4 separate regions of the Homo sapiens genome follow, and regions 2, 3 and 4 are each linked to region 1. The links come from fine-mapping of genetic effects on gene expression. A gene starts in region 1. Each other region holds a variant in brackets. All regions are shown on one strand. Distances are from middle to middle. Region 1 holds the start of RNF212 (ring finger protein 212). Region 2 has its middle 12 kb from the start of NKX1-1. Region 3 overlaps LOC124900647 (nascent polypeptide-associated complex subunit alpha, muscle-specific form-like). Region 4 has its middle 49 kb from the start of RNF212.

Region 1 (5,148 bases):
CTTATTTTATCTCTTGCTACCAGCAACGCATTTCTCAACACAAAGCCCCTGGACCAAGGAAAGAGTGAACTGCCTGTTCCTCACTTTCTCTCTGAGGTAGAACGGTGTGGATTCACAGGGACTAGAGAGAGCAATTTTTCTTCACTCTGTCGGCTGGACTATGAACTCCTCTAGGAAACAGAATTTCAGTTCATTCATCTTTTTATGCCCTGTGCCTAACGAAGTCCCCAGTAGCACAGGGTGTGAGCTTGCAGAATGAATAAATGCTTCCAAATGCATCCCATGTATTTGTAGAGGCTCACGTATGCTCACTTTCCAAATCACAATTTTATTCTTATGACATTAGGTGCTTTTTGAGTCACTACACTAAGTGGATATTGGTCAGATATGGGCTTAAATCTCAACTACCTGTCAGTAATCTGTGTCATCTCTAAGCTTCAGTTTCCTTAACAGGAAGATAAGGACAGGTGTGACAAGCAAATAAGGCATGCAAGTGCTTGGCCTAATGCCTGGCATAAAGGCTGGACTCAAATGATGAAATCTACCACTATTGGGTAATATTCGCTTTGCCTGATGGTAGCAAATAAAATATACGAATAGGTCAAATTCCTGATATTTTACACCAAAATACAAAACCATCTTTTATAAGGTTGATTTTTACTCTCTTATACTTGGCTAAGCAACAGATTCTGGTTTAGAAAAGCAGACTGCACGGATACGTTGGTGTAAGATATTAATTGGGTAATATTAAATACCTTGAATGCCCACAACAACCCTCCCCTCAAAATCGTGAGTTAAGTACTTTATGACACTAAACCTACTTCTTTTCCGCATAGGACCGTGAAGAAAATTTTCGAACGACCAGTGAAGATACAAATAGCAATGTTTTATGGTGGGCTTTTGCACAAATATTAATCTTTATCTCAGTCGGAATTTTCCAAATGAAGTACCTGAAAGACTTCTTTATAGCTAAGAAGATTGTTTAAAATATTATCAATAAGGACAAATAATCTGCATAATGTTTGAGTTAATAAATCAAAATACCTGCATATATGTGTATTATTTTTATGATTTCAAAGATACCAGAGATTGAGATTAACGTTATATCATTATAACATTGAGAGAATGCTTTTATAATGCAGCTTCTGAATTTGATAGATTAGGCACCTCATCCTATTCTTAAACTTATTTTTGAGACTGAGTCTCGCTCTGCTGCACAGGTGCCGTCAGGCTCACCACAGGCTCGATCTCCAGGGCCCAAGCAATCCTCCCACCTCAGCCTCCCGAGTAGCTGGGACCCCAGGGGCCCACCACCACACCCAGCTAATTTTTGTATTTTTTGTAGAGACGGGGTTTTGCCACGTTGCTGGTCTTGCTATTTTAAACTTGGTAGAGATCAGCACTGTCTAACAGAAATAAAAGTGGGCTACATACATAATTCTAATTTGCTGTTGTTGTTGTTGAGACGAAGTCTCACTCTGTTGCCCAGGCTGGAGTGCAGTGGTGTGATTTCGGCTCACTGCAACCTCCGCCTCGTTCAAGCGATTCTCCTGCCTCAGCCTCCGGAGTAGCTGGGATTACAGGCGTGAGCTACCGCACCCAGCCCATACGTAATTCTAAGTTTTCTAGTCTCCACATTGAAAAGGATTTTTTGAAAGGGTAAAATCAACGCTACTGATATATATTTAACCTAATATATCAAAAATATCATGTTAACATGTAATCAATATAAAATTACTAAGAAGGTTTTCATACGAGGCCCTGGAAACAGCTGTATTTTACTCACATCTTTCGGGGCGCAGGGGTCACTTGGCCCGTAGCTACCGGGAGCGCTCACCCTGCGCTCTCCCGGCACAAGCACTTGCCTGAGCCTCTCGATCCGAGCTTTGCAGCGTCCCAGCGGGTGGAAACTCTCAAAACCACGCAGAGGACAATTTTATAAAAAGTCACTTCCCCATGCTGGAACCTGGAAGCAGCAGAGGTCCTTCCCGAGCTACGCCTTCCGTTTCAGAGGGAAGCAGGCTCAGGCCTCCCGTGCTGAGGTCTCTGCGCCAGCGGCCACCTGGACACTAGTCCCAAAGCGTGCAGCGCGGCCTGGCCCCCACCCCCAACTGCCCCCCCCACCCCCACCGCCTCATCACACCCCACCCCCACCGCCTCACGCCCCCACACCCACCCCAACTCCCACATCCCCACTCCCGCTCCCACCCCAACTCCCACACCCACTTATCCCTCCCTCCCTCCTATCCCGCTCCCCGGGCCCCCAGGGCCCCCACGCCCACTCTCCCCTACTCCTCCCCTGCCTCGCCCAGCGCACTACCCTGGCCGCCCTGGCCTCCGGCCCAGCTCCCGGCCCTCAAGGTGGGCCTGGCCCGCATCCCCCGCCCTCGGCGCTCCCCCTCCCCCTCCCCCACTGCTGTCGCGCCGCGACGCCTCCTCAGCGCAGCCGCCATTCCCCGCGCCCGCCACCCAGGCCCGGCTTCCACAAAACACCTGAGGACCGCCAAGACAGGGGCGGGACGTTGGTGCTCGCGGTGCGTTCCTCCGCCTACTCCAGCCCAAACGACCTGGGAGACGAGTCACACGCGCCCTCCCAGGTGCTGCGGGAGAACCCGCGAGGTTGGCGGGAGGGCGCGAGCTCCAGTGCGCGGGCGCAGGGCTGCCGTCGACTTTGCGCAGGCGCAGAGCTGCCCGCCTTCGGGCCCTGCGCGGGGAGGCTGGTCCCAACCTTGCGTGGGCTTCGCGTGGGCCCGGCCTCGCCGCTGCGGTCGCCCGCCTGGCATGGCCAACTGGGTGTTCTGTAATCGCTGCTTCCAGCCGCCCCACAGGACGTCGTGCTTCAGCCTCACCAACTGCGGGCACGTGTACTGCGACGCCTGCCTCGGCAAAGGTCAGGGCTTCCCGAACGCAGGCTGGAGAGGGGAGGGGAGCGGCAAGGGGGTCAGGGAACTCCGGGGGATGGGGGACTTGGGTGGGAGGGCCATGGGGGCACGTGGGGGGCTGCGGAGGAGAGAGGGCGCGTGGAGAAGGGGGAGGGGGCAGGGGGAGGGGGATGCCAGGGGAGAGGCCGCGAGGAGCAGGGGAACTCTGAGGGGAGGGGGACCTGGGGTGGAGGGGCCGCGGGGGCGCGTGGGGGGCCGAGGGGGAGAAACGGCGCATGGAGCGGGGGGGGCATGGGGGGGTGAGAGGCCGCGGAGGTAGGGGTATTCGGAGGAGGGGCCACCGGGGAGTGGGGGCCGCGGGCGTGATGAGGGGCCCGTGGGGAGAGGGGGACACTGGAGAAGCGGTGGGGAGGGAGCGGGGGAGTGAGGGGCTGCGGGAGGGTGGGGAAAGAGGGGACGCCGGAGGTGGTGGGGGGCTGCAGGGAGGAAGGGGACGCCAGAGGAGGGGGGCAAGGTGGGGGATGTGGGGGGTCAAGGCTTGGGGGGGAAGGGGGATACCGAGGAGATGGGGGGAGGGGAGACGCCAGGGGAGGAGGGCGTGGGGGAGGGTCCGCAGGCAGGAAGGGGCCGTGGAGGGGAGGGGCCGCCGGGGGGAGCGGGATGCAAGATGAGGGGGACACAGGGGTCGGGCCACGAGTCCTGTCAGTCGGGGGCTCTGGCTTGCAGGCTGCGGGTCCGCCTGGAGGACCTGGGGGAGAAGCGGGCAGGCGGCAACCTTAACGCCAGTGGAGGACTCTGGCCCTATTCCATGGGCAGCGCGGGGCCCTGGTGTCAAGTGGACAGTCGCATTGTCAGGGAGGCGTTTTTCTTTCTGTGAAAATTTTGTGTTGAACTGATGTTTATGCAAGAACAAAAGCAAAAACACAGTGAGCTTTTACCAAGCGAACTTCCCCGTGAAAGCAGCCAGCTGGGTGCCGGTGGCTCACAGCCCTCCAGCCCCAGGGGACGCCAGCTGTGCTGACCTCCATCCTCGGAGTTGGCCTTAGACCCATGGAGCCTTAGTGAATGCAGCCCTACAACCAGCCCTACAGCAAAGCCGCTTTCTGTGGCTCCCCATCTTTCTTCCTTTTTCTCCCTTCCTTCTCTTTGCCTCTTTCAAGGCAGAGCTCAGCTTTGTCGCCCAGGCTGGAGTTCGGTGGCGGGATCTCGGTTTACTGCAGCCTCCGCCTCCCAGGCTCAAGTGATTCTCCTACCTCAGCCTCCAGGGTAGCGGGGCTACAGGCATGTGCAGCCACGCACCCCTGATTTTTTTAATTTTTCACAGAGATGGGGTCCCTTTGTTGCCCAGGATGGTCTCCAATTCCTGTCCTCTAACAATCACCGGCCTTGGCCTCCCGAAATGTGGGATTAGCAAAGTTTATCATTGTATTTGTATGTAACTGTAGTTCATCTACTTTCATTGTTGTGTGGTGTTCCATTGTATGGATACACCCCAAGTTACTCATCGTTTCCACTGTCCATGGCCCTTTGGGTTGTTTGCAGATTTGGCTGCAGAAATAATGCTACTGTGAATCTTCTTGCTCCTGTCTTCGGTGATCTTAGGTACACATTTCTGTTGGGTGTGTAACCTGGGAGTGGAGTTGTTGATTTCAGGTGTGTATTTAAAAACAAAAGTGTCTCGGGCAGCGAGGTGAAAAGTAGATTGGAGGGAGATAGAAACTGTGGGAGAGACTGCAGCTGAGCACATGAGAGGTGATGGGGAGAAGTGATAGGTTCAGGAGAAGTTAGGTAGATTCAGCAGACATGAGTCGGAGACAAGGGCTAGAGAACTGGACAGGGTTTCACTGCTAGACAAAACACTGGAGAGGAGCCCAGCGGGAGGGAACCCAGCAGGGTGGGGCACAGCAGGGTGGGGTGCAGGGCCCCTGAGCTCATGTCTGGACACGGCCTGTATCCTGTGAGAGCCATCCAGGGGAAGACAAGAGGCAGTTGCACATGTGGGTCTGGAACTCAAGACAGCCAGGAACACATTTGGGGAGCGATTAATACGGGATAATAATCCTATAATCCTAGATATTGGAGTGTGGAGAGCCCCAAAGGTGAAGGAAACTAGAAGAGACTATCTTGTTGGAAAGAGCATTTGTTGAAGGAGGTAAAGAAGATGTCAGGTAAAAAAGAGATGTTGATGAACTGGACATCCCAGTGAAGTCAAGGAATTGGTGTTTGAAAGTGTCCATTGGACCAGTGAGGAGGGCACTGGTGACCC
Region 2 (5,148 bases), 300 kb before region 1:
AGAACGCCAGCCATCACAATCCACCATGTCAACAGACGCAACGAGAGAAGCCATATGAGCCTATGGATACGGAAAAAAAATGTGATAAAATGCAACATCTGTTAATGATTTTACAAATTTCTCAGAAAATTAAGAATAGGAAGGAACTTCCTTAACCTGGAGCTATTATAAAATGTTTTTGAATTTTTAGGATTTAATCACTGATCGTGGGTATATAGAAATTAGATTGACCTTTTTCAGGCTTTTTCTCTGACCTTGCTGACTTATGAATTCTGGGTGCTTTTTCCTTGGGATTTTCTACGTAGATAATCATGTCGTCTGTATGCAGGGCTAGTTTTATTTTTTCTGTTTCAATATGTTTACATTTTATTTCTTTTTCTTGCCTGAAATATTTACAGGTGAAGCAACTTAATGTCTGAAGGTATATTTTAAGATTCCAGAATAAAGGTGTGGCTTTGGATACACAAAACCATATTGACACCAAAATGTTGACAGATGTTGCATCTGAGTGACAGGTCCCAGGAAGCTGATCTTACTCTGCGCTGTATTTTTGTGTGTGTTTGAAATATGTTATAGTAGAGGGTACTTTTTTTTTTTTTTTTGAGATGGAGTCTCCCTCTGTCGCCCAGGCTGGAGTGCAGTGGCGCGATCTCAGCTCACTGCAACCTCTGCCTCCCAGGCTCAAGCAATTCTCCTGCCTCAGACTCCCGAGTAGCTGGGATTACAGGCACCTGCCACCACGCCCGGCTAATTTTGTATTTTTAGTAGAGACGGGGTTTCGCCAGGTTGGCCAGGCTGGCCTCGAACTCCCAACCTCAGGTGCTCCGCCTGCCTCGGCCTCCCAAATTACAGGCATGAGCCACCATGCCCAACCCAAGGTTACTTTTTAACCTATTGCCACCCACAAAACAACCTCAATAGCTGACCAAATGGAAAAAAGACAGAGCTCACAAAGAAGACAAAGTTCACAAAAAAAAAGAAGCTACGTGGCTAATATTCATGAGGGAAAATGTTCCTTCTCACCAGTGTCCACAGAAATGGCAACCGCCACAGAAGGAGGCGGGGATGCCACCCTGTGAGATGGTGCCCATGCCAGTGACGCCGGAGACGTTACCCAGCCTTTAGGAATTCCCTCCCTTTAACCCAACCCATCACTTCTGGTGTCTCCTAGAGGTGAACTCAAGTCTAAACAAGAATCTACACAGCAGTGGTTCCAGGCACAGAAAGCCAGACTGCCTAGGCACACGGATGGACGGCTCACGCCCTCCGTGTGACAGGGTTCTATGGGACCGGTAAGAACCTGTGTTACGAAGTCTGCTATGACAACGAGAAATGCCTAGGATACAAGGGGGGGCCAGCATCCAAGTGCCCAAGGCTATAGGTGCAGCGCCCACATTTATGGTTTTTTTTTTTTTTTTTGAGACAGAGTCTCGCTCTGTCACCCAGGCTGGAGTGCAGTGGCAAGATCTCGGCTCACTGCAACCTCCACCTTCTGGGTTCAAGCAATTCTCCTGCCTCAGCCTCCCGAGTACCTGGGACTACAGGTACTCGCCACCACACCCGGCTAATTTTGTATTTTTTTTTTTTTAGTAGAGATGGGGTTTCACCATATTGGTCAGGCTAGTCTCGAACTCCTGATCTCAAGTGATCTGCCCGCCTCGGCCTCCCAAAGTGCTGGGATTACAGGCGTAAGCCACAGCACCCGGCCAACATTTATGTTTTTAGGAAGCAGAAAACGAGATGAGAGGAAAGCAGAAAACGGCAAGGTGTGAGCTGGGCCGTCGCTGTGCTGTGGGTTATGGGAGATGCTGCTTCTCCTCTGTGCTTTTTCACGAGCACGTGTTACTTTGATCACTAGAAAAGGCAACGGTTGTCTACAATCACTGTGAGGGCAGGATGTCCTCACAGACACCTGGCAGGGTTCGGCCAGGTCAGCAGGAAGCCCAGGTGGCATCCTCGTCACAGCTGGAAAGAGATACCGTCACGACCAGCCCCCCTCGCTGGGATCACGGGGTGTGGTCCTGGGTGGTGTCTGTGTTCACATTCCCTTATTCATCCCCAGCCCTAAGCTGCCTCCCACATCTGCCGTGTTGGGGAGGTGGAGGAGGAGACATGGAGCCTCACCCCACAGCCTC[C/T]TCAGTGTGATGACAAATGGGCACTTGGATAGGGGCTGGGAGGACTGACGTAATGGGGCATCCTTTGGTGAGGCAGCCACCAGGACCTATCTCGAGTATTGACCCCAGGGCACATCAAAAAAATTAAGTTCAGTAATTTGCTGGGTGAGGTGGAGGCTTCTGTAGTTCCAGTTAGTGAGGAGGCTGAAGTGGGAGGATCATTTGAGCCTGTGAGTTCCAGGCTGCAGTGAGCCGTGACTGCGCCACCGCACTCCAGCCTGGGCGACAGAGTGAGACCCTGTCTCAAAAAGCAAACAAAAGTTATCATTGGCCCAGCACTTTGGGAAGCTGAGGCAGGAGGATGCCTTGAGCCTGGAAGGTCGAGGCTGCAGTGAGCCAAGATCTCTCTCCTGCACTCCAGCCTGGGTGACAGAGTGAGCCTACCTCTAAAAAGAAAAAAAAATTATGGCAGAAATTGCCATGTAATGAAACAAGCAACAGAAAGTGCATGCCAATGGTGAAAGTTTTATTGAATTTATATATTATTAGTAAAAAAATTAACTACGTATTATAATGCAAAATCGGAAAAAGGGAATGGGTTGATGCTTTTTAATGACATGAATGTCATAAATATTTCCTTTTTGGAATCATTTTAGATTAACAGCAAAGCTGCGAGGAGCATGAGAGAGCACCCACCTACACCCCACGGCAGCCCACATTCACCTCTTAAGTCACCCCCGGACATTTGTCAAAACTAGGAGAGCGGCATCGCCACACACTATGAAGCAAACTACACACCCTCTGGGATTTCACCGACTTTTTCCCCCACGAATGTCCCTTCTGTCATCCAGGGTCCAGTCCAGGACGCCAAACTGCTCTCGGCATGGATGTATTTTTAGCAGAAAAAGGCGCTTGAAGAAACATGTCCGAGGGAGTAAGTGCCGCGAGGCGTGCGGGCAGCCTGCGCCTGGAAGAACAGGGTGGGAGGCACCAAGTTCTGCAGCTTGGTCTCTGCGGCCACTGTGCCATCTGTTTATTTTGAACCTACTGTTTACACAAAGGAACGAGTGGGACCTGGGGTGGGGTGGGGACAGGAGCTGAGCTTGAAATTGAACCGCGCTCCCAAACCACAGGCCTCCTCTCAAAATGGACGCGTGTGGCCGCATCGGCAGGCCACAAGCAACTGTGAACCGGGATTCTATAGACTCGCTTCCGTGTAGGGCACACACTTAGCAAAGGACATTTACATGCTCATATGCTACCTGTCCACATGCACACACCCGGCAGTACCCACAGCCGCCACTGCAAGCTTTGACCGTCAAAACACATTCCTGGGCAGGAGTGTTGGTCACGGACATTGTTCAGAAGCACGTCTCTTGTGGTGGGAGGAAGCAGGCAGCCCGTTTGTTGCTTTCACTTTTTTTTTTTTTTTTTTATATGGAGTTTTGCTCTTGCCCAGGCTGGAGTGGAGTGCAGTGGTGTGATCTTGGCTCACCGCAACCTCCGCCTCCCGGGTTCAAGTGATTATCCTGTCTCAGCCTCCCAAGTAGCTGAGATTACAGGCAACCACCACCATGCCTCGATAATTTTGTAATTTTAGTAGAGTTGGGGTTTCTCCATGTTGGTCAGGCTGGTTTCGAACTCCCGACCTCAGGTGATCTGCCCACCTCAGTCTCCTAAAGTGCTGGGATTACAGTCATGAGCCACAGTGCCTGGCCTCACTATTGTTTTAAATTCCCTACAGACAGGGTGCCCACTGCCCGGCCACCATGCCCAGAGACAGTGAGGAGGACCTGGGCCATCTGGGCAGGGGATCGGCCTGGCCTGACAGGGAAGGGGTGGTGTGGAGTTTCAAACAGCGAGCCAGCCCCGCTGAAGCCCCCTGGATCCCCGCCAGGAGGTTCCAAAGAACCTCAGGCTGCCAGAAGACAGGTGCGTCTGAGGCCCACAGCTACTGGGCAGGGCAGACTCACTGGGCCGCACCTCCAGGCCCCCACTAGGAAGCCCAGCAAGGGAAGGGCTGCATTCACCAGAGCCACTTGCAGGCACCAGGCTGCCTGCAGCACTGAGGACGAGGGGGAAAGCAGCCGCCAAGCTGCAGTGTCTGTGATGTGTGATGTCTTCAGATTTCACCCCAGACCACCATGTGTGTCCTGATTTTGGGCATGGGACAGCAGCACTCCTGAAAGGCACACGACCCGGGACTGCGGAGCCAGTGTGGGTCCTCCATTCCACCAGCAAGTCAATACATCCTGCACTGGGGGGCAGTCTTGGCGGGCATAGGGGGTTGACCAGGGCAGCCAGGATCCAGCCTCTCTGAAGAGCTAATGTCAGAGCAGAGAAATTCATGTCAAAGAGAAGATGAAGAGGAGGTGACTTCAGAACAAGGGGACAGCCAGTGCGAAGGCAGCTGGCCCGCTCACCCCTCAGGCAGCAGGGAGGCCGTGCGGTGGGGTCGTGGGAGCCAGGAAAAGGAGAGGAAGGGTGGGCAGGGCAGTCCCGGCCGGCCCCATGGACTCTGGCTACCGGCATGGGTTTCAGTCTCTGAGTGTGGGGTGGTGGTGGAGGAGCTCGAGGTGAGGACTGGACTCCACACATGCAGGGAATGGTCCAGCCAGGCCCTCACTTCAGAGAAAGACAGGAAAGCCGGAGGGGGACAGGGGCCCTCCAGGCCCCAAAAGAGAGCCAAGAACGTGGGCACCTGCCCCCCCGCCCCCCGGCCAAGTCTGCAGCTGCAGGCCAGCAACACAGGCGGGCGGGCCCTCCACCCCAGTCTCTCAGTTCCGCCCTCCGCCCCAGCCTCTCAGTCCCACCCTCCACCCCAGCCTCTCAGTCCTCCTGGCCCGCTGAGGGCCCCACCTCAAGCAACCCTGCCTGACGTGCCCACTGGCTGCGTCCGAGGAAGCTGGGCCATGCTGGGCCTGCTGGTGGGGACGAGGCCAGCGAGGCGGGCAGCAGTATCCCAGGCCTTCGCAGCACCTGTCCCCAGATTAGATTTCCCCTTTCTCATTACCACCGTAATGGGTCCTTCAGA
Region 3 (5,148 bases), 35 kb before region 1:
GCCAAGGGTGGGCTGAGGGTAGCTTGGCACTGGCCTGCAGGCACCCCTTGGCACCTATAGCCTGGACACCATGAATAGCAGCAGGACGCAGACAAGTTCCTGGGTGGAAGAGGGCAGGTCCCTGGTGAGGCCCCCACCTTCAGGCCAGGGAGGTCCTGAAGGCTGGGGACTGGGCTGCCAGTCCTGCAGACCAGAGTGGGAACTTCTGGTGCCTTTACCCATGACTGCCAATGTACCAATCACAGTGCACTTCCTCCCCTCTAAGGCCCATAAAAGCCCTAGGCTCAACCAGAGCTGAGCAGACATCAGGGCAACCAGATGCAGAGAGGAGCTACCCATTCCATGGCCTCCTCTCTGCTGAGAGCTGGGGAGACAACAAGAGGACCTGCCTGCAGAGAGCAACAGCCCACTCCAGGGCCTCCTCTCTGCTGAGAGCCGCAGGCACAAAGGGATGGCCCGTCTGCAGACAGGAGCAACCCACTCCAGGGCCTCCTCTCTGCTGAGAGCCTCAGAGATGACAGGATGGCCTGCCTGCCAAGAGGAGCTTCCCACTCTACGGTCTCCTCTGTGCTAGGAGCTGAACACGCGTTGTGACACCCTGGCTGTGGAAAGGAGCTGCCCCTGCGGGTCTCCTCTGAGCCGTTGTATCGCTCAATAAAGCTCGTCTTCCTCTTGCTCACCCTCCACTTGTCTGCAGACCTCATTCTTCCTGGTCACAGGACAAGAACTTGGGACCCGTCAAATGGCAAGGCTAAAAGAGCTGGTATAACACAAACAGGGCTGAGACATGCCCCTTGCTTGCCATGCTATGGGGGAAGAGAAGGAGAGAAGAGCTGCAGCCCTTCAGGGAGCCTAGACTTGGGAGCCCCCCAGGCCAGGAACAAGCAGGAGCCCTGCCCCTTCTGAGTTGGACTCCCTCTTTGGGGCCCTGTGGTTCCTGGCATACTGCATTCCCCAGTGCCAGCTGTGGAAGCTGCTTGCAGTGCACCTGGTCCAGCTGCAGCCTTGCAGAGAGTGGGCGCCCATGCCAGCACTGGAGCTGCCCACCTTGCAGCAGCTGCGGGTGTGCCTGACTGCACAGTGGCTGGACCCCATGCTCACTCACACACCCCTCACTGCTCTGTGCCTGACTCGCTCTTGGCAGGTGTGGGATCCAGGCCAGTAGCGTGAGTTGAGTGCAGCATGCCAGGCTGAGTGGGCAGAACAAGCCCAGTGGGCCCAAGCAAAACTCGGGCAAGGGTGCCACCAGCCACAGAAGTTTCCAGCTAGAAATGTGACACCCCAAGGATCCTCTGGCAAGCGGTCCCATCTGGCTGGAAGACCAGGGCCCACTGTGGCTGGCTCCCTCACCCAAGTCAGGAGCCTCTGGAGTCCTCCTTCCCACGGATGCTGCTGTCCACGCCTCCCTCCTCAGTTCCTGCCAAGGCTCTTCTCTGACTGACTGCTCCTCCTCACCTGGTCTTCCCAAGCCTCCCTACTCTCTGTTCTTCCCACTCAGCAGTCTCCTTAACCATCACCCTTGGGCAATTATTTAGATTTAGAGCTTGGCTACTTAAAACTCACTGTTATGGAAAACTTTGAAAGTGCATCAGGGCCAGGCATGGTGGTTCACACCTGTAATCCCAGCACTTTGGGAGGCCGAGGCATGTGATCACTTGAGGTCAGGGGTTCAAGACCAGCCTGGCCAACATGGTAAAACCCCGTCTCTACTAAAAATACAAAGAAGAAAAAAAATTAGCCAGGAGTAGTGGTGGACACCTGCAGTCCTGGCTACTTGGGAGGCTGAAGCAGAAGAATCACTTGAACCCAGGAGGCAGAGGTTGTAGTGAGCCGAGATCGCGTCACTGCACTCCAGCCTGGGTGACAGAATGAGACTCCATCTCAAAAAAAAAAAAAAAAAAAAAAGGCGCATCAGGCCACAGTTTTAACTTTTCTTTAAAAGAGAACAGTATGCCCTTAAAGTCCAAGAGCTACAGACTGGTCCTGGAAGCCATCCTGTGGGTCTGGTGCTCCTCACCCACTGCCCTGTGGTGGAGGAGCCCACACCTGCCCCACACCCTAGTGCCAAGGGAGCCTCTGCACTGGCGCTCTGGGGTGGCTGCTCGCCTTTTCCTTGCCGGGGAGCACAGCCCACAGCTGTCCATAGTGCAGGAACTACATCTCCACAACTGTATCCAATCATCCTTGTTCTGCCATCTGGGTCCACTCAAAATAAATACACATTTTTTCACCTGAAAGTCCGTCATAACTGAAGTCACAGATTCCACCCATCCCAGATTTCTCTTTGCAGGCTAACTCTCCTTAGTTGCCAAGTGCGCGGTTTTGCTCCAGTTTGTAACACACATGCGTGAAAGTATCTCGTTTGGGTCAAGCTAAGAGCTGGGAGCTGAAGACTCTGTAGGGCAAGACAGGCGAGCTCCCTGGGCCTGCCCCTGCCCCTGCCCCTGACTGCATTCAGCAAAGAAGCCGCAAAGCATGTAACCCAAGAAAGAAGAACTCACCGCTGACCCAGGACAGCCAGCCCAGAGGAGGCCGAGGGAGCAGGCTGTGGAGACTGAGGCAGGAGGGTGGAAGGCTCTGGCAAAAACGGGGGATGGGCATAAGACAAAAGAAGACTATTACTCAGACATGGAAAAACCGAGGACAGAAAATGGGCAAATCGTACAAGGAGAGAAAAGCAAACCAAACTCATCAAAACCAATTAAACAAACAACCACAAGTAAGTCATGGTCCAAATATGATGCCCTCAATTTCCCACAGATTGAGTGGTGCGAAGCTGGCTGGGGGGAGAGCCGGGATTGGCCTTTTACCTTGGCTGCT[T/A]TGGTCTACCAGCAGGCTGCTGGGACACAGGCCCTGTGCTGGGGGACGGGGATGGGGACAGGAGGATATCTGGGTCCCCTTCCCAGTTTCATGTCGCTCATAAAAGTGGTCATTTTGCTCTGTGTCAGCAGGGACACTTCCGGTTTGAAGGTGTATTAGGACTGAATGAGCTCTTTGAGGGCATGAACTCTTCTATTAACCTTTGTATCCCCAAAGCCTATTGCAGTGCCTGGCACATGTGGAGTGAGTGCTTTTAATCAGAACTGAACAAACTGCAGGATGAACTGTGGTTCTAAGACTTCCACACACATTGAGACGAATTTGAAAGTCAGATTCTAATTACAAGCATGCAGCCAGATGTGGATGCATCTCACTTCTTGACTTGGCTGAAAACTAACATACAAAAGCCTTTCTGAAATCCATTTCCATGATATCCACGGTGTTCTAAACTCTCCCTGTCAGTGCCATTTCCATGATATCCATGGTGTTCTAAACTCTCGCTGTGGGTGCCATTTCCATGATATCCACGGTGTTCTAAACTCTCCCCATCAGTGCCATTTCCACGATATCCATGGTGTTCTAAACTCTCCCCATTGGTGCCATTTCCATGATATCCACGGCGTTCTAAACTCTCCCCGTCGGTGCCATTTCCATGATATCCACGGTGTTCTAAACTCTCGCTGTGGGTGCCATTTCCATGATATCCACAGCGTTCTAAACTCTCGCTGTCAGTGCCATTTCCATGATATCCACGGTGTTCTAAACTCTCGCTGTCAGTGCCATTTCCATGATATCCACGGTGTTCTAAACTCTCGCTGTGGGTGCCATTTCCATGATATCCACAGTGTTCTAAACTCTCCCTGTTGGTGCCATTTCCATGATATCCACGGTGTTCTAAACTCTCGCTGTCAGTGCCATTTCCATGATATCCACGGTGTTCTAAACTCTCGCTGTCAGTGCCATTTCCATGATATCCACGGTGTTCTAAACTCTCGCTGTGGGTGCCATTTCCATGATATCCACGGTGTTCTAAACTCTCCCTGTTGGTGCCATTTCCATGATATCCACGACGTTCTAAGCTCTCCCTGTCGGTGCCATTTCCATGATATCCATGGTGTTCTAAACTCTCGCTGTGGGTGCCATTTCCATGATATCCACGGTGTTCTAAACTCTCGCTGTGGGTGCCATTTCCATGATATCCACGGTGTTCTAAACTCTCCCTGTTGGTGCCATTTCCATGATATCCACGACGTTCTAAGCTCTCCCTGTCGGTGCCATTTCCATGATATCCATGGCGTTCTAAACTCTCCCTGTCAGTGCCATTTCCATGATATCCATGGTGTTCTAAACTCTCGCTGTGGGTGCCATTTCCATGATATCCACGGCGTTCTAAACTCTCCCTGTCGGTGCCATTTCCATGATATCCACGGCGTTCTAAACTCTCCCCGTCGGTGCCATTTCCATGATATCCATGGCGTTCTAAGCTCTCCCCGTCGGTGACATTTCCATGATATCCACGGCGTTCTAAACTCTCCCCATCGGTGCCATTTCCATAATATCCACGGCGTTCTAAACTCTCCCCATCGGTGCCATTTCCATGATATCCATGGCATTCTAAGCTCTCCCCGTCGGTGCCATTTCCATGATATCCACGGCGTCCTAAGCTCTCCCCATCGGTGCCATTTCCATGATATCCACAGCATTCTAAACTCTCGCTGTCGGTGCCATTTCCATGATATCCACAGTGTCCTAAGCTCTCCCCGTCGGTGCCATTTCCATGATATCCATGGCGTTCTAAACTCTCCCCATCGGTACCATTTCCATGATATCCATGGTGTTCTAAACTCTCCCCATCGGTGCCATTTCCATGATATGCACGGCGTTCTAAGCTCTCCCTGTCAGTGCCATTTCCATGATATCCACGGCATTCTAAGCTCTCCCCGTCGGTGCCACTTCCATGATATCCACGGTGTTCTAAGCTCTGTCAGTGTCACTTCCATGATATCCACAGCGTTCTAAGCTCTCCCCATCGGTGCCATTTCCATGATATCCACGGCGTTTTAAACTCTCCGTCAGTGCCATTTCCATGATATCCACGGCGTTCTAAACTCTCCCCATCGGTACCATTTCCATGATATCCACGGTGTTCTAAACTCTCCCCATCGGTGCCATTTCCATGATATGCACGGCGTTCTAAGCTCTCCCTGTCAGTGCCATTTCCATGATATCCACGGCATTCTAAGCTCTCCTCGTCGGTGCCACTTCCATGATATCCACAGTGTTCTAAGCTCTGTCAGTGTCACTTCCATGATATCCACAGCGTTCTAA
Region 4 (5,148 bases), 49 kb after region 1:
TTATATAATTATTAATTTTGTGGTTGGATTTGTGCCTGCTGTCTTGCTGTTTTTTGTTTTATATATGACAGGATTTTTAGTTTATCGGTATCTCCTTAACTGCCTTTGTTTGCAATAAATATTTTTATCATACCATTTTGCTATAGACTGATTTGAGTCCCCCCAAAATTCATATGTTGAAGCCCTAACCTCCAATGTGACTATATTTTGAGTTAGAACCTTTAGGAGGTAAAGTTAAATTAGCCCTAAGCCAATAAGATTCATGTCCTCAAAACAAAACACACTATTCAATGGAGAAAGACACTATTCAGTGGGGGAAAGGACAGTTTTTTTGAGAAATGGTGTTGGGAAAACTGGATATCCACCTGCAGAATAATGAAGTTGGACTCCTTCCTAACACTATGTAGAAAAGTCAATTCAAAATGGATCAAGGACCTAAAACTAAAAAATATAAAACTCTTTTAAGAAAACATAGAGCAAAAGGTTCACAATGTTGGATGTGGCAGTGATTTCCTGGATATGATACCAAAGCACAGGCAACAAAAAAAAAAATTAAACAAATTGACCTCATGAAAATTTTAAATTTTTCCACATCAAAAGATACTATCAATAGAGTAAAAAGGCAACTTGCAGAATCAGAGAAAATATTTGCAAATCATATGTATCTAATAAGGGATTACAATCCAGAATACATAAAGAACTAAAACTTAACAACGAACAACCTGATTCAAAAATGGGCAAAGCCTGGGCGCAGTGGTGCACACTTGTCATCCCATCACTTTGGGAGACCAAGGCAAAAGGATCGCTTGAGCTCAGGAGTTCGAGACCAGCCTGGGCAACATGGTGAAACCCCCATCTCTACAAAAAAACTTAAAAAGTAGTTAGGCATGGGGGCACACACCTGTAGTCCCGGCTGCTCAGGAAGCTGAAGTGGGCGAATTGCTTGAGCCTGGGGGGCAAAGGTTGCAGTAAGTCGAGATTGTGCCACTGCACTCCAGCCTGGGTGACAGTGTGAGACCCTGTCTCAGAAAAAAGAAAAGCGGAGGGCAGCAAATGACTTGAATAGGCAAAGTACACAAATGATCAATAAGCACATGAAAAGATACTCATCGTTCATCGTTAGAGAAATGCAAATCAAAACTATAGCAAGAGCTGGGTATAGTGGCTCATGCATGTAGTCCCAGCTGTTCAGGAGGCTGAGGTGGGAGGATTGCTCGAGCCAAGGAGATGGAGTCCAGCCTGGGCAACATAGCAAGACCTCATCTACAGAGAAAAAAAAAAAACAGCAAGATAGTATCTCATTAGGATGAGATAAACAGCCATTAGGATGGCTACTATATATTTAAAAAATCGCACCTGTAGTCCTAGCTACTTGGAACACAGAGGCAGGATTGCTTGAGCTCAGGAGGTCAAGGCTGCAGTGAACTATGATTGCATCACTGCACTCCAGCCTGGACGACAGAGTAAGATCCTGTCTCTTAAAAACAAAAACAGGCCGGGCACGGATGTCTGTAATCCCAGCACTTTGGGAGGCTGAAGTGGACAGATCACTTGAGGTCAGGACTTCAAGACCAGCCTGGCCAACATGATGAAACCTGTTTCTACTAAAAATGCCAAAACTAGCCAGGTGTGGTGGCACACACCTGTAGTCCCAGCTACTTGGGAAGCTGAGAGGCCGAGGTGGAGCTGAGCCTAGGAGTTCCAGACCAGCCTGGGCAAAACCCCCTCTCTACAAAAAATTATCCAGGCTGGTGGCGTAAACCTGTGGTCCCAGCTTCTCAGGATGCTGAGGTGGGAGAATTGCCTGAACCTGGGAGGTCAAGGCTGCAGTGAGCAGTGATCATACCACTGCACCCCAGACTGGTTGACAGAGTGAGACCCTGTCTCAAGAAAAAAGAAAACGAGAGAGGAGAATGGACAAAGAAGTAATCACATAGTTGAAGTCTGTGGATGCAGCTTTCCTCAAAGTATTTTTATGAAGATGGTTAAACCTGAAACAAACTTCAGAATTATTTGGTCTGCAGATGTTTTCCTTTAAATAAATGTTTATTGTAATCATTTTTAAAAACCCAAAATAACAAGTGTTGTTAAGGACGCGGAGGAATTGGAAGCATGTGCACTGTTGGTGAGAATGTGAAATGGTGTGGCTGCTGTGGAAAACAGTGTGGCCTTTCCTCCAAAACTTAAAAACACAATTCCCAGATGATGCTGCATTTCAATTCAGTACTCAAAAGGATTGAAAGCAGGGTCTCTAAGAGATGCTTGTATACCCAAGATCGTAGCAGTATTATTCACAGTGTCTAAAACATGGGAGCCATCTAAGTATCCATCAGATGAATGGATAGGCACAATGTGTGTCTCCGTACAGTGGGCTATGATTCAGCCTTAAAATGGAAGGAAACTCTGGCACACGCTACCGCGTGGATGAACATTGAGGACGCTATGCTAAGTGCATAAGCCAGTCGCAGAAACACAAATGCTGTGTGAGTCCATGTGTGTGAAGTAGTCAAGATCGTAGAGACGGAAAGTAGGATGGTGGCTGCCAGCGGCTGTGGGATGGAGGGGTGGGAAGCTCTCGTTTAATGGGAGTTTCACAAAATTTCAGTTTCACAAAATGAAAACAGTTATAGAGATGGGTGGTGTGATGGTTGCACAGCATCAGGAATGTATTTAATACCAGTGAACTGTACACTGAAAATGGTTAAGGTAGGAAACTGTATCATCATAAATTTTCAAAAAACAAAAGAGACACCAGGGAGCTTGCTTACTAACTCTGCACACACACAAAAGAGGCCGTATGAAGACAGAGTGAGAAGGCTGCTGTCTGCAAGCCAGGACCCCCATCAGCCAGCATCTTGATGGACTTGCCAGTCTCCAGAACTGCGAGAAATAAACTTCTGTTGTGTAAGCCACCCAGTCTGTGGTATTTTATTACAGAAGCCCAAGCAGACTAATACACGTTTTAGTTCTCCTGTTGATACTTTATCTGTGTGCTTTATTATTTCAGTGATTCCTCTAGAGATTAC[A/G]ACATGCATCTTGAACTCACCACAGTGAACACTCACTGAGGTGAACACCGACTGAATTCCAGTGGAACGTAACCACATTGCTCCATATAGCTCCGCTTCCTCCCACCTGCTTTGTCATATGTATTTATGTACATATATATGGGATCTATGTGTTATAAATCTAACAATATGGTGTTGTCATTATTTCCTGAATTAAACTTATGTTTCTTAAAGACCTTAAGAGGAAAAAAATCTTTTATTCCATCATTCACAACATATTAACCATTTCCAGTTTTTTCTTGCAGGGAAGATTGGCTAGAAGTCAGTTCTCTTCATTTTTTTTTTCCATATTTGAATGTCTTTGTCTTCATTTTGAAGGATAATTTCACTGAAGATACATTTTCTTGGTTGACTTTTTAGCACTTGGTATATATGTCATTCCTCTGTCTTCTGGCTTCCATTATTATTAATATTGGTTTTTTTCATTTTTTTTTTTTTGAGACTGGGTCTCTGCCACCCAGGCTGGAGTGCAGTGTCTTGACCATGGCTCACTGCAGCCTGGACCTCCTGGGCTCAATCAATCCTCCCACCTCAGCCTCCTGAGTATCTGGGACTGTAGGCATGCACCACCACACCTGGCTAATTTTTCTTTTTTCTTTTTTTTTTTTTTTTTGAGACTGAGTCTCACTCTGTTGCCCAAGCTGGAGTGCAATGGTGTGATCTCACTGCAACCTCCACCTCTGGGTTCAAGTGATTCTCCTGCCTCAGCCTCCTGACGAGCTGGGATTACAGGTGCGCACCACCACACCTGGCTAGTTTTGTAGAGATGGGGTTTCACCATGTTGGCCAGGCTGGTCTCAAACTCCTGACCTCAGGTGATCTGCCCACCTCGGCCTCCCAAAGTGCTGGGATTACAGGCATGAGCCACCGTACCCAGCCATTTCCATTATTTCTGATGAGAAGTCAGCTGTTAATCGTATTGTCCTGTAGGTGATGAGTTGCTCTTCTCTTGCTGCTTTAAGTATTTTTCTTTTTGTCTTTCACTTACTAAAGCTTTATAGTAACTTTTGAAATTATGAAGTGTGAGTTTTCCAACTTTGTTCTTTTTTGAGATTGTTTTGCATATTTTGAGTTCCTTGCATTTCCATATGAATTTTAGGATCAACTTTCCCATTTCTGCTGACAAAGCAGGTTGAAATCTCGGTAGAGTTTTAATTCACCTTGTACATCAATGTAGGGGGTATTGCCATCTAATACTAACACTGCATCTTCCAATCCATGAATGTTGGACATAGCTTTACCTTTATTTAGGTCTTTGATTTCTTTCAACGGTATTTTGCAGTTTTCAGTGAAGAAATCTTGCACTTCATTGGTAAAATTTATTCCTAAGTATTTTGTTATTTTGGTGCTACTATAAATAGAATTGTTTTGTAACTTTTATTTTCAGGTTTTCATTGCTAGTATGTAGAAATACAACTGATTTTTATAGATGGATCTTGTATCCTGCAATCTACTGAGTTTATGAGCTCTGGGGATTTTTTTTGTGGATTCTCTAGGGTTTTCTGTATATGGCAAATCATGTCATCGGCAAGTGGAGGTTGTTTTACTTTTTCCTTTCCAACCACGATGCCTTTTATTTATCTTTTACTTTTATTTTTATCTTTTCACTTCCCGTCCCACTGCAGGACTTTCATTTGTTTTTCTCGCCTAACCGCCCTCTCTGGAACTTTCAATACAGTGTTGAATACAAGCGGCAAGAACAGACATCCTTGTCTTTGTTCTGTTCCTGATCTTAGGAGGAAACTTTCAGCCTTTCACCATGAAGGATGGTGTTCACTGAGGGTTTCCTGGAGGCGCCCTTTATAGGGTTGAGAAGTGCCCTTCTAGTCCTTTTTTGTCATGAAGAAGGGTTAAATTTTTCAAGTGCTTTCTCTTTCTCTTTTGAGATGATTATTGGGTTTTGTTCTGTTACCATGATGTGTTCATAGATGTAATTACTTCCATTGATAGAATATATTAATATGGTGTTGATTTCTGTATGTTGAAGGAACTGTGCATTCCTGAGATGAATCCCGGTTGGTCGTGGTGTATGATCTTTCTTATACGCTGCTGGATTTTGTTTGCTGGTATTTTGTTGAGGAAT

Evidence for each region. PIP is the estimated chance that this variant, and not a neighbour inherited with it, causes the effect.
Region 2: its variant is fine-mapped to the expression of RNF212 in tibial nerve (GTEx, PIP above 0.99). The same link has a PIP of 0.9 or more in subcutaneous fat and tibial artery.
Region 3: its variant is fine-mapped to the expression of RNF212 in aorta (GTEx, PIP above 0.99). The same link has a PIP of 0.9 or more in coronary artery and spleen.
Region 4: its variant is fine-mapped to the expression of RNF212 in whole blood (TOPMed, PIP above 0.99).

The regions. Positions count from the first base shown.
Region 1 is chr4:1,111,098-1,116,245 of GRCh38, reverse strand. RNF212 (ring finger protein 212) reads left to right here and starts at 2,682. Exons shown (of 10, transcript NM_001131034.4): 1 at 2,682-2,890. The coding sequence starts at 2,782. LOC124900647 (nascent polypeptide-associated complex subunit alpha, muscle-specific form-like) reads right to left here and starts at 2,607. Exons shown (of 3, transcript XM_047416477.1): 1 at 2,494-2,607. LOC105374344 (a long non-coding RNA gene) reads right to left here and starts at 2,607. Exons shown (of 3, transcript NR_134676.1): 1 at 2,494-2,607. It also overlaps the pseudogene TMED11P.
Region 2 is chr4:1,415,949-1,421,096 of GRCh38, reverse strand. No RefSeq gene overlaps it. Among named protein-coding and RNA genes, the nearest start is that of NKX1-1, 12 kb to the right of the region's middle. The variant C/T (reference allele first, on the strand shown) is at 2,136.
Region 3 is chr4:1,146,203-1,151,350 of GRCh38, reverse strand. The region is part of intron 1 of LOC124900647 (nascent polypeptide-associated complex subunit alpha, muscle-specific form-like); the gene reads right to left. LOC124900837 (hornerin-like) reads right to left here. Exons shown (of 2, transcript XM_047416541.1): 2 at 1-4,801. The coding sequence ends at 3,191. Among named protein-coding and RNA genes, the nearest start is that of SPON2, 24 kb to the left of the region's middle. RefSeq lists enhancers at 592-1,092, 1,093-1,593. The variant T/A (reference allele first, on the strand shown) is at 2,821.
Region 4 is chr4:1,062,225-1,067,372 of GRCh38, reverse strand. It overlaps a transcript of RNF212 not described here. Among named protein-coding and RNA genes, the nearest start is that of RNF212, 49 kb to the left of the region's middle. The variant A/G (reference allele first, on the strand shown) is at 3,027.